4 linked regions of the Homo sapiens genome follow. The protein of the gene in region 2 purifies or fractionates together with the protein of the main gene of each other region. This does not show direct contact. Each region holds a gene or a part of one and is shown on either strand. Other genes may lie near its edges.

Region 1 (7,030 bases), on a different chromosome or scaffold from region 2:
TTCTTCTTTCATTTCCAATTTTTTCTAATGAGTAATGAGATGGAACAACAATATGATAGAGACCAGCACAGCTGCTGGACACTCACAACCCAAAGTCATTTCTGTCTTATGTACGGAAACATATCTAAGGGTATCTCTTGAAAAATCTCACACATCTTGAGTTCCCTTTGCCCTTTCTAACTTCCTTAAGTTGGTAACTTTATTTTAGCTGGAAAGTCTTTTTAATAGATATAACAATTCTTGGCAATTGAATTAGAAAGTATAGGCAGTTTAGAAATTTCTGTAAAAATCACCAACAGTCTAATTCTAACTTGTCAGTAGGACGAACGAACTAACCATAACATGGGTGACATAGGCTTTGTATTATTTTGGATTTAGGTGATTTTGTTTAACTTTTACTTTTTTCTTTATTTTTTCTTTACTAGGTAAAAATAAAACTGAATATACATCCATCCCAAGAATAACATTCTCAAGTGTAAGGCAGGACAGTATTTCACTCAATAAAGATCATCAGGTTTCAAACTCAGAGAGTGCTAAAGAACTTGTGCATCATCAATGCACAACTCACCAGCATGAGCTTTGAGTATATGTGTTTTCAGCCGGCTGTTATAGGAGGACTTGAAGGAGCAGAGTTTGCATCGGAATGGTTTATGGTGTCCGTGGTGGGTTTGCATATGGCGATCCAAACTTGATGTAGAAGGAAAACAAAAAGAAAAATGACAAAATTAAAAATTGCATAGAGGATTTGCTCATTGCTTTTTTTCCAGGAATCCTACTTCTAGGTCGTTCAAAGTCCTTTTGTTTACTTTCCAATAATGGCATTTATCAATTTAATTAATTAATTTTCAAGAGTTGTACCTACTCTAAGAGGACAGGAAGCTAAAGGAAGAGATCAAGAGTTTTTTTTGGATTTAGAGATATGGCAGTGGTAACAGGTCATGGTAAGAATCTTTATTGTCCCTTCTTAGAGCTCTGATCATTGGAAGAGTGTATCTAAAGAGAAGGTACAATATGGGTGAATTCAAGCTTCCTGCCAAGCCAGTGAGAGTGCCTATCAATTAGTCCTCTAACTTATTCAAATAACAGAATGGGAATTAGAGAAATTTAGCATTTGAAAAGAGCTGACTTTCTTTTTGAATTCTAATTCTACTTTCATTGTGAACACTAGAGTGAGGAAGGGAGGTTTCGAAGTGGCTGACCTTCTTGCAATGGGCTGTCTTGTTGCCAGGGTCTATATTAATATGGAGGCACAGTGCATGCATGTTTAAAGGAGCCACGTGGTCAAAAGGCCGCACATCCCTTCTGATACACACAACCATGTTTGCTGTAAGTCTTCCAGAAGCAATTTACAAGGGAGTTATTTAATTACAACGAACCCCTAGTACTTCATAATAATTATTAGCCTAAAAAAATAATAAATCTACCAAACAAGGTGTGGGAAGTTCTAATTTGTATCAGCACTCCAGAGAACTAAATTCCCTTCTAAATGCCTCATGTGGGAACGGTACTGCTTACCATTTCAACATATAATGCTGTCCTGAGCTCCAAAGCAACATTTTCAATTGCCCCTGGACAGCTCCCTCTGGGTGTCCTTTAGTTCTCTTTAACTCAACCTGTTCTAAACAAACCCATCAGAGAGTTTTCTACAAAACAAATTCTCTTCTTCATTTCCTTGTTTCTATAAATGGCACTAACCTTTCTTCCAGATGAGTAAACTGAAAACCTAGTTGCCATTTGTATTTTACTTTGTCCCTCATCCCACGCATGAAGTCAATTTTTCCAAGTCAGGCAAATCCATTCCTTCAATCATTCCCTAACTTCTTGAACTAGCTACTATTATTGCTTCTTAATTCCTTGTCCCCCAGCCCCCATGGATTTTTTTTTTTTTTTTTTCATCTCAAGAGCACACGCTATGGAGTCAGACTACCTGGGATAAAATCTCAGCCATTACATATAGGCTGTGTGTCCTTGGGCAAATTACTTAATTTTTCTAGGCTTTACTCTTCTTATTCATAAGATGATAATAATGGGGCCATACCTTATAGGAGAGTTTTGAGAATGAAATTAAGTAATATTTAAAGGCCCTTAGTACAGTGCCTGGTATATAGTGAGATGCAATAAATGTTAGCAATTATAATTATTTTGCTAATTTGACTCTTCCTTTTACCAGCAATTTAAATTATGAAATACTATTTCCTGGCATTTAAAACTCCAAATATGGTCTCCTTTAAAGTATTTAGACCTTATCTTTCACTATTCCTTTACATGTAACTTAAGGATTAGTCAAACTGAACCCCCAGCTAGGGCCCCAGTCAGCTTCATGGTCTCCTCCCTCAGCTTTTCCTCTACATCATATGTCCTTTCCAAACTATTCAAGTCCTATTTTCCTACTTTAAGACTTCACCCAAATGCTCCTTATGCCATAAAACCTTCCTGACTCTTCCAAAGCTGATGTAACATTTCTCTTCTTTGACACATCATAGTATTTTACTGATATTTTCAAAGACGTGCTTTATTTTGATGAGTCAGTGGGTTTTGTTTTGTTTTTTTTTAATTTCATAAACCAACCCTTGACCCTAAATTCCCCTGGCCACAGACCATGGCCTGTGTCTTTATATTTCCCAAAAGTACAGTACCTAGGACAGGATATATTCATTTATTCACAATTATTTAAAGTTCCACTGTGCGTCAGACAATGTGATAGATGCTGTTCAATAAATACTTCTTGAATTGAAGTATTTCAAGTTTTATGCCAATGTATGGATCTGATGACAAAGATTAGATATTAGGCTCTGTATAATAATAAAGTGTTTACAACCCATCCTAACCTCTGTGAAAACACCACCTCCTTCTTCTGTTCAACAACCACTAACTGGCCCTTTATCTTTTGTAAGAAGCAAATAGTCCATCATTTATTTCATTAAAAAAATTGTTTTAAAAAGCATGTCAGTCTTAGTCACCTTTATCCAAGACTGTCCAAACGCATTATTGAATATTTATCTCTCTTTTACACGGCTGAAAGAGAAAGGCAACAAAAAGTTGTTCTTAAAACCACCCCTCTTTCCATGGCCCCAAAAAGCCTTACACACCTATTCCATATTTACACTTTCAAAGCTGTGATGAGTAATGGGAAGCTCCCTCTCCTCAATCTCCCTGTATGTCAAGCAACTCTTTGGCATCCATGAACTTCTTTACCTTTCAAGATCTTTTGAAAAATTGCAAGCAATGTTTCTTTGGTCACATGGGTTAATAGTCCTAATTTTACCTCTTTAGCAACTCAGTTTTCTAAATGGACTTTACTTCCTCAAACAATGACTAGATTTTGGCTGAATGTTTGAACGATGAATCAGGAGACTCATCTACTCTCCACAGATGCCATTTTACCTTTGGGTAAATCATAGCAATTCCTCCAATTCTCATTTTTAAAATGCCTGCATTTGCCAAATCTAACGCCATCCGATCAATCTCCTGTTCTCAGCCCCATTTTACAGAAAAGGTGACTGAGGCTCCAGGTAACATAGCAGCAGGTGTGAACCATGAGTGGGGCCTTCTTACTCATCCAAGCTTCTGCTTTAGCTTAGTGCCTTCCACTATGACATCATCTCCCAGTAACCACTAGTGACCCCCCAATAGCACTTACTTGTGCCTGAAAGCAGAAACAAACGAGCAATACTGGCAGCTGTACTTGTCCTCGCGGGTAAACATGGCCAGGGCCAGGTGGCTCCTCTCATGAGAACGCAGCCCCTGCATGGACATCAGGACTCTGTCACATTGACTGCAATGGTATCCCCCCGGCCGGGTTTCATCCTCCAACATTCCATCAAGCAAGCAGTGTTCACCATCCACCCGGCCCACCAGGGCGCCACTGGCGTCTTTGGCTGCTTCCAATCCATCCAGGAACAAGTGGGCAGGGTCATCCGCCTCCTGCTAAGAGAACCACACACACACACATGCCCCACCAACAAAATAAATATCCATCATCATTGCCTCCAGCTTTCTTTTTCTCCCTACATTCTCCCAAACTCAACAGCACTTCTTGTCAAAGCTTCCTCCCCTGCCTCTCCAGCTACCCCTAGAGGGAGAGCAAGCCCAACTGCCATTCTTCATGCAGTGGAGGTGATTTTAGGACAACATACCCGGACACAGGTTGCTACTGTTTGCGAAATGTGAACAAGGGCTTCTCCCACTCTGAAGACACTTCACTCACTTCTTCCCCATCTTAAAAGAAAATTCAAACTGCAACCCCATCTAAGTTGACATAAAGTTGGGCTAGGGTTGTGGCTCACAGAAAGGAGAGGAAGAAAGGAAGAGAAAGAAAAGCAAAGTAGTATGGTCATTGAGGAGCCTTGGGCCATTATCTGGAAAGGAAGCAAAGCAAAAGATCCCGCTGTCTGCCCCCTACCCTGTAGATGGTGACTTCACTCTATGACTGGAGACTGCTGCATAATCAATTCAAAAAATTAAGGAGCAGCCTAGTTTTAAGTCACCTGTTTTTCGAGATAGCTCCTTGGGTTACTGATTACACAGGAAAAGCCCTTCTGTCTCTCTCACATGATCCCAGGAAACGAGCCTGGGACACACCGCAGTGGTGTCTGAAAGAAAGTGACTGCTGATATCCCTGGGTTGCCACTGTTCTGCCAAAAGACAGAAAGCTTCAGTCTTCAGTGAAGAAAAGTAGAGACTTTATCTTCATGTTAAATTGGCAAAATAGGATGTAAGCTCAAGAAGGGCAGATGACAAAAATATGTTCGCGTGTACCCTTAGAGAAAGGGCAGAACCCCAAAATGACTTCTGTTTTAATAAATAATAGGGCTTAGCAATATCCTGGAAGACGGGGATGGTGGCTTGGTTACTGACATGGTGGCTGCTATTAGGATTATGATGTTCAAAACAGGTGGCCTAATAAAAGTCAGAGGGAAAAGGGAAGACACTTGTCAGCATCATATGGGAGAGGGGATGGAGGAGACAAACCAAGGCTTTCAGGGTCAATTGCGACTTGAACGCTTTTAGTTTTAATGTCTCTTGCAGTCCCCAGAGGACCCAGGATAAGAAGACAAAGAGATTCTCCTAGGCTCTCTGCATCCTCAGCCAGATGAGAACAGTAAGAAGTCAGGAAGAAAGAGGAGCAGAAGATGATGGGAACAGAACCCACTTGATTCCTCTCAAGAGCTCGGGCAACTTGGAAGAACGAAGAGCTAATGGCACTAAACGCAGAATAGAAGGACGACCCGAAGCCTCCTAGACCGAGAATCCTGGACCTTCTGCTGCCACCAAACTATCCGCGTGGAAGGAAACCAGATCGAAACTCGACCTTTCCCTGAACAGAAAGATGAGGAAGGTCCAACCTGCAAAGAAATCAAAACAAGCCAAACCAATCCAAGCATAATTCAGGAATGCCCGCATTCTGAGATGCTCTTTCCTGAGCTGCTTTAGGCAATGGGGTTAATAAGTAACTCGAATCGCTCACACACAATGCTCATCCAGACCTTCCAGTTCTCACCTTCACAGCAGCTGACACAGCTGGGACATTGCCATACTGGACGTGCTTTCGGAGGTGATTGCAGATGGCTCGGAGCGTTGGGTGCACTTCCACACAGAATTTACATTTGTAGCCCACCACTTTCCTCTCCTTGATCTTTGGCACCTCTTCTAAGTGACCAAAAGGCTGGTAAAATACAGTGGTAGCCATCAGTACTCCGAGCCCTCCCTCAATTGTCAGAATTTATTCTTGCAGTTTACTAACATACTTTATTTTAAAGCCGATTAGCAGGTTAAAAACCAAGGGAGATATAGGCGAGTATTTTTATATAACAAATTTGTCAGCATCATGGCACGCTGCCTACTATGCAAAGTCTTTGAAACCCAAATACATTACGGCTTGTGAGTAGAGAAGATTTCTGTGCAGAAGCTCATCGTCACTGCCACTAAGTCATCTGGTTTTCAAACCAGTTTCAACTAGGCAGGTGAAACGTTGCATAGTTGCGCCATTAATGAACTTCTTGATAAAATAAAATCTACTCCTGGAGACGTTAGGTTCATGTAGCAAACACTGAAGACCAAGACATGGCTGAGAAGTGCTAATGGTACCAAGAGACAGCCCACACTGCCTTAGGAAAGAGCGAGCGTTGTTGTAAAACTAGGCTTCAGATAAAGCTACTTGGCAGAAAGACATACATAGAAACCACCCCAAACCTCCCCTGGGGAGCCATGGGAGGAGTCAAAGGGAAGGAGGGAGGAGAAGGGACCAAGGAGAGGGGTGAGCACAGAATGGGAGATAATCAAGCTCGAAATGTTTAATTGACTTATTGAGCTCTCTGGCAAGCTAAGTCACTAGGAAGCCTGCAGCAGTTTGGCTGGCAACGAAGAAGTGCATGTGGGCACCAGTGATGAGAGGCCTCCTGGGGGAAGGGAAATCAAAACATATCCTTACCCTCTCTTGTTTGAAATCTGCAAAAGCACCATCTGCATATTTCTGCTTGCTCAAAAGCTGTTTCCTCCTCTCCTGACGTTTGGCACGCTTCTGGAATTCCTCATTGTGAATGTTCAAGTGTGAGGTCAGCTCGGCTGTGCTTTGCAGTTTGCTATCACAGTGCTTACACTGGTAGGTGGAGTTCTGCAAGCGGGGGCCGTTGCCCAGAATGATGAAGTCCCTCTTTAGGTCCCGACTGTGGTGGTCAGTGTAATGCATGCACAGCAGCTCTGCAGTGCTAAAGGACAGCTTGAAGCATTTGATGCAGCGGAATGGGAGCCACTCGATTTCCTGAGCTTCACCCTCCACCTCGGCTTTCTCAAAGTTGCCTCTCTCCTCTTCTTCCATCAGTGTGGGCTTCTCATGCTCATCTGCATAGACGGCCGTGAAGTAGCCCCCCAACTTGCTGGCGTGCTGCTTCTTTGGGAACACCCCTGGGTGGCGTTTCATGTAATGGGACACGATGCCCTTCTTGCTGAACGACTGGAAAGAGCACAAGGAGCACTTTTTCTTCTCCACTGCCCGCCGGAGTTCCTCGCTCAGCTGAGGGGAGTCGTCCTT
Region 2 (4,711 bases):
TCCTAACTTCCAACTGACCTCACACCATGTTCCTGACCTGCAAGCCTTCCATCCTCAGAGAAGTTTCTTTGGTATTTGTGAAGCAAATCAGAAAGATAAAATACAAAGTTTACAAATTCACATATTTTCAAACCTGATTTAGACTGCATTTGCTTGATGTGGTATTCCATAAGTTCTAATAGCCATGAGATGACTCTTCCAGGGATCCCTAGGTTGCTGAAGCCTAATATTTATTCTCTGAACCATTAGGAGCAGAGAAGAGCATGGAAACCAGGAAAGGTACACACTGAACCAGTTAAGGAAATAAGAGTAGGAAACAGGATACGCATTATCTTATTTCCTCAGGCTTGCGCCAACCTGTGGTTATTTGCAGAAAGTCAGAGACCAATAATCCTTAGAAAAGAAGCCCATGTTCTCCAAGTCTTGTTGCTCTTTCAGAAATTGAGCTGACACTCCAGGGCCCAAATTAAAGAAGGGGCATAAGACCCAGATCTTTAAACCACCACTCAGAATCCATATTTGAAAAGCAACCATTTATTAGAACCAATACAAGAGTATGAAAAGGGGGAAAAGAGGAGGGTAGAAGAGGGGGAGAGAATGAGGTCTGCATCAGATGTCAGTTATGGAAACACATAAATGCTTACTTTTTAAACATTTACATTTAAAAGGTGAACATATATATAGACCACTTATACTTTAAAAAAAAAATCAAAAGCAGACATGTTTGGCTGAAATAAAACCAAGAAACACAGCTAAAACTCCCCCATAAACCTAAAAGTCCATGGAGAATTCAATTTCTCATTTCCATTCAGAAATCTGGCTACAAAGTGATTTGTTTGCTATTTGGGACAGTACAGAGTGCTGAAAGAAACCCAGCTCTTGAGTCTCTTAGATCCCATCCTGTAGGAAGTGGTGGGAAAGCCAGCGGACCATGGGCAAGTCAACTCCTGGCTACTTGGCAGGGAGTCAGACTGTGCTCTCTCCATTCCCCAGGACTCCACAGAACCATCTGGTACTGCTAGTGCTGGGTGAACAGTGAGAGCAGAGTCCACAAAACACAGAGAACCAGAATGTGACCGCAAGGAGCCAGGACCTTGTGCTTTTTCATGGATTACAAATCTAGGGCCAAGGAGAGGGAAAGCAGAAAGAGCCCTATTGGGAAGAGGAGCTGGCTGCGCCCCTAAACTGAGATGGAAAGAGTAAGGCTCTTGAGCCCACACCTGGCCAAGTAGAAATAGTGTCCAAAGTTTTCTCAAACCAGAGGGAAAAAAGGTCAAGGTTAGGTTCAGACTGCAGACACTAAGAGATGACAGATGTTGAATACGGTGAATGGGATGAAGCTTTAAGGATCAATGCCCAATTCTGAGTGTTATACACATTTCTAGGAAAAATAATTCCAATGTAGCTTTTGGGGGTGGGGGGTGGAAATAAGGTGGTCACATTTATTCAATCAGCTGGTCCCTATGAGGAAGGAGAGGCCCAGGTACAGATACCACAAAGGGGTACAGTGACCCAGCTGTCCTGGGATTGGTTGGGGAGTGGTAAGCAATGACATAAATCAAAACCATTGAGGGTTGCTTTGATCCTGAGACAGTCTGAGTCTGCTTCAAACCCATGGGGAAAGGAACTTTAATCCCCAACCTGCAGAGAGAAATACGCAGTAGCATCCCTGCCTCACGATTCCCTAATCCAATGCTCTTGAATCTGAAATGGCCTCCCTCTGTGAATGCAAGACACAGAAAATCCCAAGTGCCTTCCCCAACAACATCCTAAGTAAGTCTGGACTAGTAAGATTCCAACATTCATGAAAACACTGTCAACATCTGAACTAGCAGCTTTGATGAGGGGTGGGGGGCAGAAAATTTGCCGAGTCACTAAGTAGTTCCAGTCTTGGAGACAGCTCAGTGAGGACCAAAGCCTGTGTGTCAGGCTTAAACTCTGGCTCAAGACATCCTCCACAGAGGACCCTGAAGTATTCTATTAACTTTGATTTACAATGCCTCACAACAACACCCCTGTGAGGTAGGTCAGTATTATTAACCCCATTTGACAGATGGGGAACTGAGGCATTGAAAGAAGTGACTTGCCCAAGGTCAACCATTATCAATCAGTTGAGGAGGTGGGCACACAGAGTCAGCATCCACTCGATTCTTGTTCCATTTCCCAGAGCATTTTACCTCTCAGAGTGTACTTGGGAGCAGAGGGAAGTTGGCAGGATACACCTCATTCCACAAACTAGATTAATTCAATAACTGAAGGGTATTAACTGAGGGCCTATTATTTATCTAGTATAATGTGAGGAATCTTGGAAAAATGAACTGCTTCTGAAAGTCATGTTATAGATGTTTTGAAAATAAAATTACATCTTTAACATTAAGGACATGAATTATTTTGTAAAGAAATATTCACTTTATCTTAGGAGGTGAAGGACTAAGTCACACTGATTTCTCAGAGTTTTATACTGAGTAACCTGAATTCCTAAAATCCAGAAAGCAAGATCACATTCCAACAGAAACAATGAATAAGAACCTTTTCCCCAGTGGTGGTTCTTGGTAGCGCTCTTATAAAGCTGCAAGTTGGTGGCGTGGGAATCCTAGCACCACAAAACACCCTCTTACTACATCACATCCCTCCCCACAATACCCAGAGGGCTGCATTTTTCCAACCTTTCTGCCTCAGCTCAACTTCAAGAGTTACAGCATCTTCAAAAACACCTCAAGGGTAAGGATACAAATGGTGACCCCTGCTTTTCTATTCAGGGAGAGGGGATGAAAATATTCTCTGTAACTAATCATATAGACTCTTGAATTCTTTCCTCCTGTGAGAGATGTAACTCTTTAACAAAAAAAAGGTAGAAGAAAAAACAGTTATGTCTTTTCTCCCCCTTTGGATTTACTTTGGATTCTGGTAGAAATCATTATGTCTCTTATCCTAAACTGAGGAGGTGAGGGGTGAGGGTGACACGAGACAAACACCAAACTCACCACCAGCCCTCGTTTAGAATCCAATCCTAAAGCTACCGGAAACCAGAACACTGACTTGAGCCTTAAGAGTGTTGTGACATGATTAAACTGTCTTTTCAGGTGTTCTCAAAGAATTTCTAGGCAGAAAGCCTCTCCTTTCTTCCATACCTCTTCACAGCAGCCAGTGTAGGAAGTCCCCACATACAACAGAAACTCAAAAGATGATTTATCAACACATACAGTAAAATGTTCACTAGGGGCCGGGTGCGGTGGCTTATGCTTGTAATCCCAGCACTTTGGGAGGCTGAGGCACGTGGATCACTTGAGCTCACGAGTTGGAGACCAGCCTGGGCAACACAGGGAGACTGTCTCTACAAAACATTTTTTAAATAATAAAATTAGCCAGACACCGTGGTGTGCGCCTGTAGTCCCAGCTGCTTGGGAGGCTGAGGCAGGAGGATCATTTGAGCCCAGGAGATTGAGGCTGCAGTGAGCTGTAATAAAGATACTGTGGCCGGGTGCTGGCTCACGCCTGCAATCCCAGCACTTTGAGTGGCCGAGGCAGGCGGATCACAAGGTCAGGAGTTCAAGACCAGCACGGCCAAGATGGTGAACCCTGTCTCTACTAAAAATACAAAAATTAGCCGGGCATGGTGGCAGGCGCCTATAATCCCAGCTGCTCAGGAGGCTGAGGCAGAGAACTGCTTGAACCCGGGAGGCGGAGGTTGCAGTGAGCCAAGATCACGCCACTGCACTCCAGCCTGGGCAAAAGAGCAAGTTTCCATCTCAAAAAAAAAAAAAAAAAAAAAAAAAAAAGGTTCAATATGGATACTCTAGGTACAGGAACCATTCCAAGACCTAAATAGATTTTTTTTTTTTTCCTCACTGATAGCTGATCACATTAAACAGGTACAGGTGCTAAGAAAGTTTAAGACTGATCTTTTGGCAATGACAGTTTAGGTTAACTCTGTTTGGAATTCCTAAAAATAAAAAGAAATCCCTTAAAAAAGGCTGACAAACTGACCACTTGGCCTTGAATCGACTGTTAGGGTCACACCTGCCAATGCCAGGGGACATCACAAAAAAATAGAGAATGCCAAGATAAAAAGTTCACTGCATTCAATTTGGCCTAATTTCTTGATAATAGTTTCCTATTAGATTTTCCGATTAATACTGATGGCTCTTACCTAGGCTGTGATAATTAGGTTTTGATCTATTGTGACATTAATGATCACAATCAGTTGACTTTGAAATTGTCTTAATTAATGGCTCTTTCCTTGTCAGCTTTTGCCTCCAGTGCAGGATTCATTCCCTTCCCCACTGCCTTGTTTTAACTCCTTCTCTTACTGACCTCAGAAACAAATAGCATTGGAGGATCACTTTCTTCCCATAAAACAAGACTTTAAACTATTTTAAAACATTTCTCTTGACAGAGGAGCAATATGAGATGATGTTAGATGAAATGAGGATCAGAATGAAAAGGCAAGAGAACAAGCTGTCAATGAACAGGAAAAATTCCATCTTAGAAAACAACCAAAGTCAAGCACAATGTTAAAGTGACAAGTTGAAGTAACTCTAAAAAGACAAGATGAGGTAGATTAAAATCCAAGAAAGTCAGCACAAGCAAAAAGAAACCAGAATTGTTTTTATGAAACTATCTAAAAAACTTCACACTTTAACTTTCCAGAGCAGTTACTCTAATTCCTGGGAATTCTGACTTCCAAAGTTAGTCAACTCTCAATTATCCA
Region 3 (7,528 bases), on a different chromosome or scaffold from region 2:
GGGCCAGGCTGGTTTCTATGCTCACCACTCCTGCTTTTTTTTTTCTTCAACCAGCAGAGCAGGTGACCATAGTTCTTGGGCAGCCTGCTTGAAACAAAGTGCCCTCTGCTGCTCTTTTCATGAAGAGTGTAGCAGGATTGATTGAGGCTGGCTTTGCACTTACACGGTAAACTGGCCATATGAGAACTTAGCTGCTCTGCCGGCCAGCACCAGGCTCCCAGTTGCCTTTCACTCGCTCACTGGCGCTCAACTAGCATTGATTGAGTGCCTGCAATGCAGCAGTCAGTGCCCATCTGCCACCCCTGGCAGCTGTGTGGACCTAGACTGCCCTTCAGCAAAGTCTGCTGCTCTGCCTGAGAGGAAAGGAAGAGCCCCATGCCCACCAGCAAAGGCTTCTGGGGCCTGGGCATCCTCTCCTCCCTCCAAAACTGGGGCTAGTGAATGGTTAAAAAAAAAAATTAAGAAAATATTAATGGACTTGATTCTAATTTTTATATTTGATTTTTATTTTTCAGTCCTATTTAAAAAAATGTCTAAAACTCGGAAATAAGGCAAAAAAGAGTGATTGCATGGCTGTGTCATGTCTGACAAGCTCCGATTATTTAACAGTTGACCCACATTTGTGCCCACACTGTGACATCACATGTTTCCTTACGGATTTTTGCCCAGTAGAGATGTGAGTGATTTCTATAACATGGCCTCAAAGGTGGCAGTTGTGCTTCCCTGTAGGATCCTAACCACTTTTGTTTCTAACTGGCCATTTGACTCCACTTTTTCTAGTGGCTGCACGTACTCAGCTTTATGAACCTTCTGAACTAGCTTCATCCTCCTCTGGATTCCCTCATGAATGAGTTAAATAAATCCTCTGAGATTGAGACCGTCCTGGCCAACATGGTGAAACCCTATCTCTACCAAAAATACAAAAATTAGCTGGGCGTGGTGGCAAGTGCCTGTAGTCCCAGCTACTCATGAGGCTGAGGCAGGAGAATCACTTGAACCCGGGAGGTGGAGGTTGCAGTGAGTAGAGATCGCACCACTGCACTCCAGCCTGCCGACAGAGCAAGACTCCGTCTCAAAAAAAAATACAAAATAAAATAAATCCTCTGATATGTGTTCACTTTATATTCGTGTGAGTCATGTGTTTAACTTTTGAGAACTATACTTTGACATTCCCCAAAGCCCAGCAACAGAGCTAGATACTCAGGAGGAATTCCATTTTATCATACTTCCCATTAAGTAACTTATTTTAGTTCCCATTATTTTGCATTATTATAAATTAAGTAGAAATAGCAGAATAATTTGTCCTTTTTTATTATAAAGTAGCTAAGTTGATTATATTAGATCTAAATTATAAGCTGGACTGCTTTTATTATTTCTCTTACAGGAAGCACTTAATAATTTATTTCTAATTTTTATTATGTTCCTTGTAATACATATTAATGCAGCAATTTGAATGGAAAAATTAAGTCTGACTTTCTGACAGAAAGCCAGTCTGATTTTGGCTGCTTCATTTGACAACATGATTCTGTGTAGGTTTTGAATATGTGCAGATACTCAGCACTGTTATTCTTTATACACAGAAGACAAATGACAAAGTCCAGTGCCATCTCAGCTAATGAGTTTGCAGCTCCTCAAAGGCTGTCAGGCTGCCACTTTCTACTGCAATTGTAGTTCACCTGCCTCTACCCATTCCCTGATTCAAGTCTGGTCCCTGGAACATAGTATAGGTTGAGAAAACATCAAAATAAACTGTTGAGAAGTATATGTTCAATAGATCCTTAAGTGAAATTTTGAAAGTCCATAAGGGTCTGGTTTTAGTACAGGATTTTATGAGAGTTATTTCTGCTTTCTTTGGTTACTTTAAAGTTTAGTGCAATATACTGGGAACCTTTCAAAAGGCCAAATTGGGAGTTTATTTGCATTATTCATCTTGAACTATTTAATATTCTATAACTACAATAGCTTTTTTAACATGATTTCAATTCAGAATAATAGCAGAGGGTGTTTTGGTTTTTGTTATTTCGTCACCAAGAGTTGCCTTCTGCTAGAGTTTTGTTCAGTGTTCAATTGGAATAGGTCTCTTGGGATCATCAACTCATTCTGACACTTCAGGAAAAAACAACTGAAGCAGCCATTCAAATTAGGTCCTGCAGCCACAACGAACCTGTTTCATATTAAGAGTCAGGATCTCAAAAAGTTCTCAATCAGTAAATCTTTGCTATTCAGAGAAAATAAAAGATCCTCTCATTTCTGCATTTAACATTTACAGTTTACAAACTGTTTTCATTGGCTCTTTTAAAAGCTTGTAACTAGGTGGATACTTTTTAAAGAAATCTATTAAATTTAATGAATCAATTTTGCTGCAAAAACAAAACTTAGAAAAATCCTAAAATATTTAATATTGATATTTGAATCCTAGAAATCAGAATCATTCCGGAAATTAACACAGGATCCTAAATTTTGCATGAAAGGGAGGTAGAGCCAGGCGCTGTGGCTCACGCCTGTAATCCCAGCACTTTGGGAGGCTGAGACGGGCGGATCACGAGGTCAGGAGATCGAGACCATCCTGGCTAACACGGTGAAACCCCGTCTCTACTAAAAAAATACAAAAAAATTAGCCGGGCGTGGTGGCGGGAGCCTGTAGTCCCAGCTACTCGGGAGACTGAGGCAGGAGAATGGCATGAACCCGGGAGGCGGAGCTTGCAGTAAGCCGAGATGGCGCCACTGCACTCTAGCCTGGGCGACAGAGCGAGACTCTGTCTCAAAAAAAAAAAAAAAAAAAAAAGAAAAGAAAAGAAAAGAAAAAAATGTAAACACAATATAGCAACTTTTGTGATACAGCAAAAGCAATGCTAAAGGGGGAGTTTATAGCTATAAATACATCAAAAACCAAGAAAATCTCAAATTAACAACCTAACTTTACAACTTAATGAACTATAAAAAGAAAAACTAAATCCAAAGCTGGCAAAAAGAAGGAAATAATAAAGATTAAAGCCAAGATAAATGAAATAGAAAATAGAAAACGATAGAGAAAATCAATGAAACCAAAAATTGGTTCTTTGAAAATGTCAAAGCATTATTCACAATATCTTGAATAGGGAAGCAAGCCAAGTGTCCATCAACAGGTGAGTGGATAAGCAAAATGTGGCATATCCATACAATGGGATAGTATTCAGTGTTAAAAAGGAAGGAAATTCCACAATGTGCTACAACATGGATGAACCTTGAGGATGTTCTGCTAAGTAAAATAAGTCAGTCACAAGACAAATACTGTATGATTCCACTCTTATGAGTAGTCAGACTCAGAGACACAGGAAGTAAGATGGTGACTGCCAGAAAGTAGAAGGTAGAGGGGAACCGAGAGTTAACATGTAATGCATAGTTTGTTTTTCAAGATGAAAGAGGTACAGAGATGGATGGTGGTGTTATGAATATACTTACCACCACTGAGCTGTACACGTAAAGATAGTTAAGACGGTAAATTCTATGGATTTTATTTTTATTTTTTTGAGACAGAGTCTCACTCTCTCCCCCAGGCTGGAGTGCAGTGGCGCGATCTCGCTGTAACCTCCGCCTCCCCGGTTCTATGGGATTCTCCTGCCTCAGCCTCCCTAGTAGCTGGGGTTACACGCGCCCGCCACCACGCCTGGCTAATATTGTATTTTTAGCAGAGACAAGGTTTCACCAGGTTGGACAGGCTGGTCTCGAACTCCTGACCTCAGATGATTCACCTGCCTAGGCCTCTCAAAGTGCTGGGATTACAAGCGTGAGCCACCGCGCCCGGCCATTCTATAGTTCATTTTCACCACAAAAACAAAAATGAAATTCACAACAAGCAAAACTTCAGAAGGGTACAAAGGTAGAGAGCAGTGTGAGCTAATTTTACAGTCTTTCAAAGCATACAGACTGATGGCATCAGCATTAGAGGTGCATGCATTTTAATTAGAATTGTGGTGGTAACATTCATAAAACTGAAAACAAAAAACGAAGAAGATAACTTCTGGGAATCGGGACTTTCAGTGGAGGCGGGGTGATGAGAAAAGGAATATTTACTGTCATCCAACAACTTTGTCTTGTACTTTTGTCATAGGTATTATGCCAGTAATATCCCTGAGAATGTATGGGGCAGGTCTAGCTCTTTTTTTCCTAATAAATTCATTCACACAACAATCAAAACAGCAAGAAAAGGAAGAGATATCCGCACGGCGGCGGCAGGCCGGGGCCGTTCCAAGGGCCTGGCCGGAGGCCACAGGCCAGACGCGGCGGAACCCTCCCGGAGCCGCGCCCGGGCGCGCGCGGGAAGCGGAGGCGGAGTGGGCACGTGCGGCACTTCCGGGGCGGGGCGGGCACGCAGCCCTTCCGAAGGCCCGCGCGAGCCGCTAGTTTTGCCCACGCACTTTTGGCACAGCCGCGCCACGCGATCGGCGATCTGATTGGCCCGCGCGGGAGGGCGCGCGGCGCCAAACTTGCTTCCCGTCAGCCCCCGCCCGTCCCGCGGGAGCGCGCACGCTCGCGCACCCGGATCCCGGCTCCTGCATCCAGTCGCCATTCGGGAGGCCGCTGCGCTGCAGGGCCTCGCGGAGCCGCCCGCGACCGCGAGCCGGGCCCTCCGCGCGGTCCATCGCCCACTGGACGCCGCCCGCGGCCGGACCGGTGAGGAGCGAGAGCGAGCGGGGGAGGGGCGTGGTTGGGGCCTGCATCCCCGAGCCCCGTGTCGGCCGCCGACCTGGCGGGGACGGTCCCGGGAAGCCGCGGGTCCGAGTGAAGGGGGCCTGCGCTGCCTCGCTTCCCACACGGCCCGAGGGAAGGGCCCGCCCCCACAGGCCGGGGCGGGAGTGCGTCTTTGTGCAGGGAGCGGGGAGGCCCGGTGTCAGTCGCTGCCGAGGCTGGAAACATTGCGTTTGAAACCATTGGGAAGTTGAGGGCGGCACAAGACGAAAGCCATTCTTTCTGTTTTAGTTCTAGACTGCCTCCTCTTCTGTCATTATTACTGTTTAAAAATCCGCTATACAGCCTCCAAAGTGGGAGAGGACATTTGTAAACCTGATAAAGAGTTAATGTCTAGAATACAAGAAGAGATGCAACTGACCAACAAAAAGCAACCCAGTTCAAGAATGGGCAAGGAATTTGAATAGATATTTCTCCAGAGAAGAGAGACAAATGGCCAATAAGCACGTGCAGTGATGCTCAACATCACTAACCATTAAGGAAATGCAGATGAAAACCACAATGAGATACCACCTCACACCTGTTAGGGTGGCTATTAAAAAAAAGGGAAATTATGAGTGTTGGGGATGTGGAGAAATTGAAGCTCGGGTGCATTGCTGGTGGGAAAGTAGGGTGGTGCAGCAGCTATGGAAATTGGTAGTCGTTCCTCAGTTCTAGGTTTATACCCCCAAAAATTGACAGCAGAGACTCAGATACTTGTTCACAAATGTTCATCGCAGCATTATTCAAAATCCAGATGTCTATCAACATGTGGATGAAAGGCAAGCTGTGGTATATACATATAATGAATGGACCATTGTTCATCTTTAGAAAGGAATGAAATTCTGATACATGCTGCAATATAAACGAACACATTATACAGTATAAACGAGCACATTGAACACATTATGTTGAGTGAAATAAGACACAAAAAAGACATACTGTATGATTCCCCCTCAGGCACAGAATTGAGATTACCAGCACTGAAAGTGGAGAGTGGAAGTTACTGTTTCATGGGTACAGAATTTCTGTTTGTGGTGAAGAAGTTCTGGAAGTGGATAGTGGTGATGTTTGCACAACGTTTTAGTACTAAACTAACTAAATTGTGCTTTTAAAAATGATTAAATGGCAAGTTTTGTTTTTTTTTTTTTTTTTGAGACGGGAGTTTCGCTCTCGTTGCCCAGGCTGGAGTGCAATGGCCCGACCTTGGCTCACTGCAACCTCCGCCCCCTGGGTTCAAGGGATTCTTTTGCCTCATTCTCCCAAGTAGCTGGCATTACAGGCGCTTGCCACCACACCTGGCTAATTTTGTATTTTTAGTAGAGATAGGGTTTCTCCATGTTGGTCAGGCTGGTTTCGAACTCCTGACCTCAGGTGATCCACCCGCCTCGGCCTTCCAAAGTGCTGAAATTACAGGCATGAACCACCATGTCCGGCCTAAATGGCAAGTTTTTTGTTTTTATTTTTGTTTTTGTTTTTTAATGAGCCAGAGTTTCACTTTTGTTGCCTGGGCTGGAGTGCAGTTATGCGATCTTGGCCCACTGCAGCCTCCGTCTCTCGGATTTAAGCGATTCTCCTGCCTCAGCCTCCCAAGTAGCTGGGATTACAGGCGCCTGCCACCACACCCGGCTAATTTTGTATTTTTAGTAGAGACGAGGTTTCTCCACGTTGGTTAGGCTGCTCTCTGACTTTCAACCTTAGGTGATCCGCCCACCTTGGCCTCCCAAAGTGCTGGGATTACAGGCGTGAGCCTGTGGTGGCGCGCGCCTGTAGTCCCAGCTACTGGGGAGGCTGAGGCAGGAGAATCGCTTGAACCTGGGAGGTGGAGATTGCAGTGAGCCGAGATTGCGCCATTACACTCCAGCCTGGGTGACAGAGCGAGACTCCCTCTCAAAAAAAAATAAATAAATAAAAATGACTCCTTGTGTAAACTATAGACTACTTAATAAATCAGTATTAGCTTATCATTGTAGCAGATATCTCACACTAATGCAAGATGTTAATACAGGTGAAGTATCCTTCATTCGAAATGCTTGGAACCAGAAGTGCTTTGGATTTTTTTTTTTTTTTTTGGATTTTGGAATAGTTGCATTGTACTTACTGGTTAAACATCCGTAATCTGAAATCTAAAATGCTCCTTTTGGCACTCAAAAAGTTTTGGATGTTGGAGCATAATCAGATTTCAGATTTTCAGATTAGGGATGCTCAGCCTGTAGTAGGAAAAACTGGGGACAAGAAGATAGGTGGGAATTCTTGTACATTCCCTTCAGTTTTTCTTCAAACATAAAACTACTTGGAAAATTAGTTTATTAATTTCTTTCTTTTTTGGGTTGGGGGTGAGTATGGAGTCTTACTCTGTTGCCCAGCTGGAGTGCAGTGGCTCAGTCTTGGGTCACTGCAACCTCCGTCTCCCGGGTTCAAGCGATTCTCCTGCCTCAGCCTCCCAGGTAGCTGGGATTATAGGTATGCACCACCACGCCCAGCTAATTTTTGTATTTTTAGTAGAGACAGGGTTTCACCATGTTGGCTGTTGGCCAGGCTGGTCACGAACTCCTGTCCTCAAATGATCCGCCTGCCTTGGCCTCCCAAAGTGTTGGGATTACAGGTGTGAGCCACTGCGCCCGCCCAGTTTATTAATTTCTTAAAGGCCAGGCATGGTAGCTCACACCTGTAATCCCAGCACTTTGAGAGGCCAAGGCAACAAGATCTCTGGAGGCCAGGAGTTCAGGACCAGCCTGGACAACATAGTGAGACCTCATCGCTACAGAAAAAAAAAATTAGCCAGATGTGGTGGCAGGTACCTATGGTCCCAGCTACTTAG
Region 4 (7,030 bases), about 48 Mb from region 2:
TCTCACTCCAATGCCTAGGCTGGAGTGCAATGGCACAATCTAGGCTCATTGCAGCCTCCTAAGTAGCTGGAACTACAGGTGCACGCCACCAGAACTGGCTAATTTTTGTATTTTTTGTAGACATGGGGTTTTGCCATGTTGCCCGAGCTAGTCTTGAACTCCTGGACTCAAGCAATCAGCTCTTTTAAATGCTGAGATTAGCCACTGTGTCTGCCTCTCTGAGAACTTTCTTTTCTTGTCTTTTTTGAGGTGAGTCTCGCTCTGTCGCCAGACTGGAGTGCAGTGGTGCGATCTCGGCTCACTGCAACCTCCGCCTCCCGGGTTCAAGCGATTCTGGAGAACTTTCTTATGCCAATCAGCAATCTCTCTCCTGATATGCAGAATGGCATTCATTTGATTACACATGTGCTCCTACTTGAAACTGAAAGCTCCTTGAAAACAGATACCATGCTTTGTCTTTTTATCCCTGGGCACATCATTGCTTAGTACATAATACCTGAAGGCTTATTAGTGTACCATTTCTTCCCCGATTATACTCAGCGTACGAGACAACAGACACGTCTTTTTTTTTTTTTGAGACAGAGTCTCACTCTGTTGCACAGGCTGGAGTGCCGTAGCACGATCTCAGCTCACTGAAATCTCTACCTCCCGACTTCAAGCGATTCTCCTGCATCAGCCTCCCAAAGTGCTGGGATTACAGGCGTGAGCCACCGCACCTGGCCCACACAGGCACTTTTTAGCCCAGAAAAAAGAACCAGGCCAGGCATGGTGGCTCATGCCTATAATCCCAGCAATCTGGGTGGCCAAGGCAGGTGGATCACTTCGAGGTCAGGAGTTTGAGACCAGCCTAGCCAACATGGTGAAACCCCATCTCTACTAAAAATCCAAAAAAAACAGCTGGGTGTGGTGGCAGGCGCCTGTAATCTCAGCTACTCAGGAGGCTGAGGCGGGAGAATCACTTAAACCCAGGACACAGAGGTTGTAGTGAGCAGAGGCTGCATCACTGCATTCCAGCCTGGGCGACAGAGATTCTGCCTCAAAAAAAAAAAAAAAAAAAAAACAACCAGCAGCCCACTGACTAATAGCTCTACATCTTCAGAGATGCAATTCAATCCCACCTCTATATCTTTCCTGAATACTCCAATCTGCAGTGTTCCCCAAACAAACCCCTCTGCACTAGTGTGTCACTGATTGGACACATAGTCACCTACAGCTCATGTACAGTTAGTTAACTTTCAATTCTGTGTGTCTTCAACCCTAATGTGTAAGTTACTTGGGAGCAAAGCCTTCCATAGAATGAAGAAAGTGAGAACAGTGCGCTGGATGGACAGACTCCCTCTGCTGCAGGACGTTACGCACTTTCAAGTTTGTCACTTAAGCAATATATTCCTCCCCAACCGCTCACCTTAAACCTTCGAGCTAGAAATTTATTCTTGATCTCTAAGAAATTGCCACGGTTCATTTCACCCTTGAAAGGCTCATTGAGGATGGCATAGCGTGGGTCATTCTGGATGTCTTGCCACCGGGCATAGCCATGGCTATTGGAAAAGTGCTCAGGAAAAACAAAACAAGGAAAGTAAGAACCTCAAACTAAAAGACCTTCAGAACCTTTCACCAAAAGCCTCAGTACAGATTCAGGCAAAGGATACTTTATAATGCCGGCTAGCAGCCAGTAGTCATGCCGTCGATGCCAGATCTCATAAGTCTTCTTGGTAACTGTGGCTGCCCGCTCTTCATTCTGCCAAAGGGAGTGCAACTCTGAGGAGGAATTTAGGGAAGGTTGGGGGTGGGGGGAAGCAAACATCTGTGAGAATTGAAAAAGCTACTTATTCTTGTCCCCCACCATCCCCTACCCCTGGATCCATTTCATATAATTTGCTTCTGGCTTTCTCCACAGAACCCACTATCAGTTTGGCATTCCCTCATCAAACAGAGGTAAAGAGGTAAAGTCCCTGTACCGTGGTTTCTGACAAGAACCCCAATTTCACATCAGATCCTTCTAACCCTGGTGGGCCCCTCATTTCCATACCAGTAAAACCACCATCTGCAATGTTAAACATGAAACGTTGTTTAATATTTTTCTTCTGTTTCTCATCATTCAGGTCCTTGGGGGTCTCTCCATTCTGAAGCATCACCTCTTTTTTCTCTTCTTCTTCTTTCTTCTCTTCTACAGAATATGGGGAAGAAAAATGTCAGCTCCAGCCAAAGCCCAGCACCATCGCCCTTACCCAGAACACTGTATGCTACAAGAATCCATCCACCTACACCCCTTCTCCACCTGGGTGTCTCTCAGACCCAGAAAATGGTGCCATTGGCCCACTGACAACTAAATGTGGGGACAGGTACAGTCTTTTATCTTGGGATAAAATGGCTAGATGAGTATGGACAGGGAGGCAGGGCAGATACAGTCCTTGCTTCTGGTTTTAGAGTTCTTCTGAACCACAATCAACTTCTCCAAACACCCACCTTTGTCTTCTACCACAATAGGGGTCAGATCTATTGCTGACTTTTCCTCCACCTTCTCTACATCAGCAGCACCTAGGGGAAGAAATGTTATTGAGACTATACCTAAAGGAAGAACATTCTCCTCTGTTGCACACTATTATCCAATTGGATAGACCCACATCTAAATGTCTGCAATTACAGTAATGTCAGCTGGGCATGGTGGCTCATGCCTGTAATCCCAGCATCTTGGGAGACAGCAGCAGGCAGATCACTTGAGGTCAGGAGTTCAAGACCAGCCTGGCCAACAAGGTGAACCCCAATCTCTATTAAAAATACAAAAATTAGCTGGGTGCGGTGGCTCATGCCTGTAATCCCAGCACTTGGGGAGGCCAAGGTGGGTGGATCACCTGAGGTGAGGAGTTAGAAACCAGCCTGGCCAACATGGTGAAACCCTGTCTCTACTAAAAGTACAAAAATTAGCCAGGCGTGGTGGCTCACACCTGTAATCCCAGCACTATGGGAGGCCGAGATGGGTGGATCTCTTGAGGTCAGGAGTTCATGACCAGCCTGGCCAACATGGTGAAACCCCATCTCTACTAAAATACAAAAATTAGCCGGGCGTGGTGGCGCATGCCTGTAATCCCAGCTACTCAGGAGGCTGAGGCAGGAGAATTGTTTGAACCCAGGAGGTGGAGGTTGCAGTGAGCCAAGATCACACCACTGCACTGCACATCAGCCTGGGCGACGGAGCAAGACTCCATCTCAAAAAAAAAAAAAACAACAACAAAAAAAACAATTAGCCAGGCATGGTGGCTACTCAGCAGACTGAGGCAGGAGAATCACTTGAACCCAGGAGGCGGAGGTTGCAGTGAGCCAAGATCGTGCCACTGCACTCCAGCCTGGGTGACAGAGTAAGACTCCGTCTCAAAAAAAAAAAAAAAAAAAATTTTGGCCAGGCGTGGTGGCTCACGCCTGTAATCCCCGCACTTTGGGAGGCCAAAGCGGGCGGATCACGAGGTCAGGAGGTGGAGACCATCCTAGCTAACACGGTGAAACCCCGTCTCTACTAAAAATACAAAAAATTAGCCGGGCATGGTGGCAGGCGCCTGTAGTCCCAGCTACTCAGGAGGCTGAGGCAGGAGAATGGTGTGAACCCGGGAGGCGGAGTTTGCAGTGAGCCGAGATGGCGCCACTGCACTCAAGCCTGGGCGACAAAGCGAGACTCCGTCTCAAAAAAAAAAAAAAAAAAAAAATTACGTGGGCATGGTTGTGGCACGCCTGCAATCCCAGCTACTCAGAGGCTGAGGCAGGAGAATCGCTTGAACCCAGGAGGCGGGAGTTGCAGTGAGCAGAGATCGTGCCACTGCACTCCTGCCTGGGTGACAGAGTGAGACTCCATCTCGAAAACAACAACAACAACAACAACAACAACAAATAAAGTCATAAGAGATACCTTAAGTTAGGGGAAAACCTGCCACCTAAAATCAAGGGTGCAGGATTCTTCAGTGTGTCGCTTCCTCCTGATATCTCTACAGCCCCAGCAAAAATTCACGAGTGACCATGGTTCACACAGGGATCTGTAGTGCTTAATATGGATACCGGCCAGGCATGGTAGCTCACGCCTGTAATCCCAGCACCTTGAGAGGCCAAGGCAGGTGGATCACCTGAGGTTAGGAGTTGGAGACTGGCCTGACCAATATGGAGAAACCCCCTCTCTACTAAAAAATACAAAATTAGCTGAGCATGGTGGTACATGCCTGTAATCCCAGCTACTCAGGAGGCTGAGGCAGGAGAATCGCTTGAACTCAGGAGGCGGAGGTTGCAGTAAGCCGAGATCGCACCATTGCACTCCAGCCTGGGCAACGAGTAAAACTCCTTTGAAAAAAAAAAAAAAAAAAAAAAAGCCAGGCACAGTGGCTCATGCCTGTAATCCCAGCAATCTGGGAGGCAAAAGCAGGTGGATCATGAGGTCAGGAGATTTAGACCAGCCTGGCCAACATGGTGAAACCCTGTCTCTACTAAAAATACAAAAATTAGCTGGGCATGATGGCGTCTGTCTGTAATCCCAGCTCCTCGGGAGGGTGAGGCAGGAGAATCGCTCGAACCTGGGAGGTGGAGGTTGCAGTAAGCCAAGATCGCGCCACAGCACTCCAGCCTGGCGGCAGCACTACACTGTCTCAAAACAAACAAACAAACAAAAAAAATGTGGATACCTTTACCTTTGGGCTCTGTCTCCATAGGTTCCTCTGTTCTCTCCTTCACCTCTGCCTTTTCCACTTTCTCCTCTCCCTCAGGGGGTTCAACAACGACCTTTTCATCCTCTGAGGCAGGGGCAGGGGCCTGTGTACACTTCAAAGGAAAAAAAAACAAAAACAAAACAGATGAAGCAGACAGGCCAGCAACTAAAAGGAAGACTGGACTTACACATTTGTCTTTAGTATGGCATTCAGTCACCCCATCTCTTACCTCAATGGCAGTCTCAGGGGCTGTAGATTTAACCTCCTTTTCTCCTTCTATGCTCTCTTCTTCTTTGAGGCTATTTTCCTCTATTTTTATCCCATCTTCTGCAGAACAATAAAAGACAATCAATTAGGAAGAAGGTACTAGATCAGAGAGAAGGTCATTTCTTCCCAGTTTGTCTCATCTTAAATTGTCCTCTCGTGCCTTTAAGAGCCAGCCCTATTCTTAGGACGGCCCTCCTAAACTGAGAGGGAATTGCTGTGTGTCCTGCCAGACTACCCTGTTAGAACTGAGCACAGGGGAGCAGAAAAATAGGCCAGGACAAAAAGAGAGGGACAGAAAATGATAGGACAGGCAGACTTACCAGCAGGTGGGACAGGTGCAGGAGTGTTGGGCTGCGTGTCCCCTGGAGTGGAGGGTGTAGGAGTTTTTGGGGAGGGTGACCCTGGCTGGGACATCTTCTTGTTTTCCTCCACCTCAGCCAGTTCAGGCATGCTCCAGCGCCCATTAACATGTTCAAACTCCTGAACCTGTAGCAATGGGACAAGAAGTTGAAGACCCAATTCCAGCTACAGGCTCCTTTCCTATTGGCCTTCCAGTCTCCGCCTCCCGGGTTCAAGCAATTCTCCTGCCTCAGCCTTCTGAGTAGCTGGGAATACAGGTGCCCGCCACCACGTGCAGCTAATTTTTGTATTTTTAGTAGAGATGGGGTTTCGCCATGTTGACCAGGCTAGTCTCTAACTCCTGACCTCAAGTGATCCACCCGCCTCAGCCTCCCAAAGTGCTGGGATTACAGGTGTGAGCCACTGCGCCTGGCCCCCTAGAAACAATGGCAAGAGGCTCAGGGCTCACCTTCTTGCGAATCAAAGACATAACACCAATTCTAGTAAGGACATGCTGGCGAGACAGGCCTTCTCGGGGGACACCATCAGCAAAGGTCTCAGCCCCATCTGCCCCCGGCTCACATAAATGCCGCATGAAAAGAGAGACATATGCCCTGTGTAAAGAAGTAGAGAAAGAGTTAAATAGGGATCATGCTGACTCTTAGATTCTTTTCCATCCCTTCGTGAGGCATTATCACAGGCAATAACTATGGCTCCACCTTGAGGTAAAGCCCACCACTGCACGGGAAGGCTGATCTCTAGACCCCACAAGAAGACCCAGGTTCTCTTCCAGGGAAGCTAGGAACACATTACTAACAGCTTCACCTGCCAACTTCAACAGAGAAAATAGCCCACTTCCCTGCACGGCTAGGCCTAGAACCATGGAATGACCAGATAGATAGCAGAAGCCCTTGCTCTAGATCAGTCCACTCCAGCCCTCAACTCACTTGAACTCTTTCTCTGATTTGCCTCGCAGGTCTCTTACAAGCCACTGGGTAGTAAAAGCATCCTGAGGTGGCATACCATATCGCATAATTGCATTAAGAAAGGCTTTTCGCTGACGAGCATTAAAACCAAGTACCTAGGGGAAGAAGAAACCCAGGTGAGAGGCAGCAGGTCGCATTCCACCAAAGATGCAATATCTGACACTCACCCCTCCTTAGAATCGTATGGCACTTACTTCAATATTCCCACCAACACGGGCCAACAGAGGAGGCAATGGCTTATCTTTATCATTCCGCAGGCCCTTACGACTGGGCCTACGGGGAGCTGCAAGAAGAAAAAGATGAATGAGTGACACAGGTAGGATATTAAACAAAGCAACATTTAGAAAAGCAACAAAAAAAGCACAGCCCTCACCTTCTGAACGTTCATCAAAGTCTTCATCACCTTCCTCTGAAGCCACTGAGTAATCGGACTGGTTGTCGGACTGGTCGTCCTGCCAATCTGGAGGGAGAGAGGGCAGATGAGCGGGGCCCACTGCTCTAGTGGAACGGCCCATGGGTGGGGGGCGGGGCCGGCCACACACACCTCGGTCCTCCTGGGAGCCATCATTGTAGTTGACCTGTTTACGGATTCTTTTTCCTTTGCCCAGATTTCGGGCTAGATCTTCTTGCTGCTGCTCATAATGGTGCCGCAGCAATTTCTCCCAGTAGTCAGGATCCACACTTTCTTCCTGTTTAATGATTTCCCGTTCTACCTCCTCTTCCTCCTGGGACAGAGGGAGGGCCAGGACTCAGGAG

The links.
Region 1: the proteins of CBX5 (region 2) and ZNF462 purify together in Homo sapiens (affinity purification with mass spectrometry; 4 studies listed by BioGRID and IntAct, with this or other methods). This does not show direct contact.
Region 3: the proteins of CBX5 (region 2) and CHAMP1 purify together in Homo sapiens (affinity purification with mass spectrometry; 6 studies listed by BioGRID and IntAct, with this or other methods). This does not show direct contact.
Region 4: the proteins of CBX5 (region 2) and CHD4 purify together in Homo sapiens (affinity purification with mass spectrometry; 5 studies listed by BioGRID and IntAct, with this or other methods). This does not show direct contact.

Annotation. Positions count from the first base shown.
Region 1 is NC_000009.12:106,929,160-106,936,189, reverse strand, and holds part of ZNF462 (zinc finger protein 462), read right to left. Parts: coding exon 6,431-7,030; intron 5,666-6,430; coding exon 5,501-5,665; intron 3,928-5,500; coding exon of another isoform or gene 3,745-3,927; coding exon 3,641-3,744; intron 688-3,640; coding exon 569-687; intron 1-568. UniProt on the Homo sapiens protein: Zinc finger nuclear factor involved in transcription by regulating chromatin structure and organization. Involved in the pluripotency and differentiation of embryonic stem cells by regulating SOX2, POU5F1/OCT4, and NANOG.
Region 2 is NC_000012.12:54,230,428-54,235,138, forward strand, and holds the end of CBX5 (chromobox protein homolog 5), read right to left. Parts: 3' UTR 515-4,711; downstream 1-514. UniProt on the Homo sapiens protein: Component of heterochromatin that recognizes and binds histone H3 tails methylated at 'Lys-9' (H3K9me), leading to epigenetic repression. In contrast, it is excluded from chromatin when 'Tyr-41' of histone H3 is phosphorylated (H3Y41ph).
Region 3 is NC_000013.11:114,309,991-114,317,518, forward strand, and holds the start of CHAMP1 (chromosome alignment-maintaining phosphoprotein 1), read left to right. Parts: upstream 1-4,512; 5' UTR 4,513-4,653; intron 4,654-7,528. UniProt on the Homo sapiens protein: Required for proper alignment of chromosomes at metaphase and their accurate segregation during mitosis. Involved in the maintenance of spindle microtubules attachment to the kinetochore during sister chromatid biorientation.
Region 4 is NC_000012.12:6,576,380-6,583,409, forward strand, and holds part of CHD4 (chromodomain-helicase-DNA-binding protein 4), read right to left. Parts: exon of another isoform or gene 7,000-7,030; coding exon 6,819-6,999; exon of another isoform or gene 6,735-6,818; coding exon 6,648-6,734; exon of another isoform or gene 6,558-6,647; coding exon 6,469-6,557; exon of another isoform or gene 6,370-6,468; coding exon 6,236-6,369; intron 5,903-6,235; coding exon 5,758-5,902; intron 5,436-5,757; coding exon 5,270-5,435; intron 5,231-5,269; exon of another isoform or gene 5,094-5,230; intron 5,010-5,093; coding exon 4,912-5,009; intron 4,795-4,911; coding exon 4,665-4,794; coding exon of another isoform or gene 4,659-4,664; intron 2,539-4,658; coding exon 2,467-2,538; intron 2,343-2,466; exon of another isoform or gene 2,174-2,342; intron 2,168-2,173; coding exon 2,030-2,167; intron 1,759-2,029; coding exon 1,650-1,758; intron 1,539-1,649; coding exon 1,406-1,538; intron 1-1,405. UniProt on the Homo sapiens protein: ATP-dependent chromatin-remodeling factor that binds and distorts nucleosomal DNA. Acts as a component of the histone deacetylase NuRD complex which participates in the remodeling of chromatin.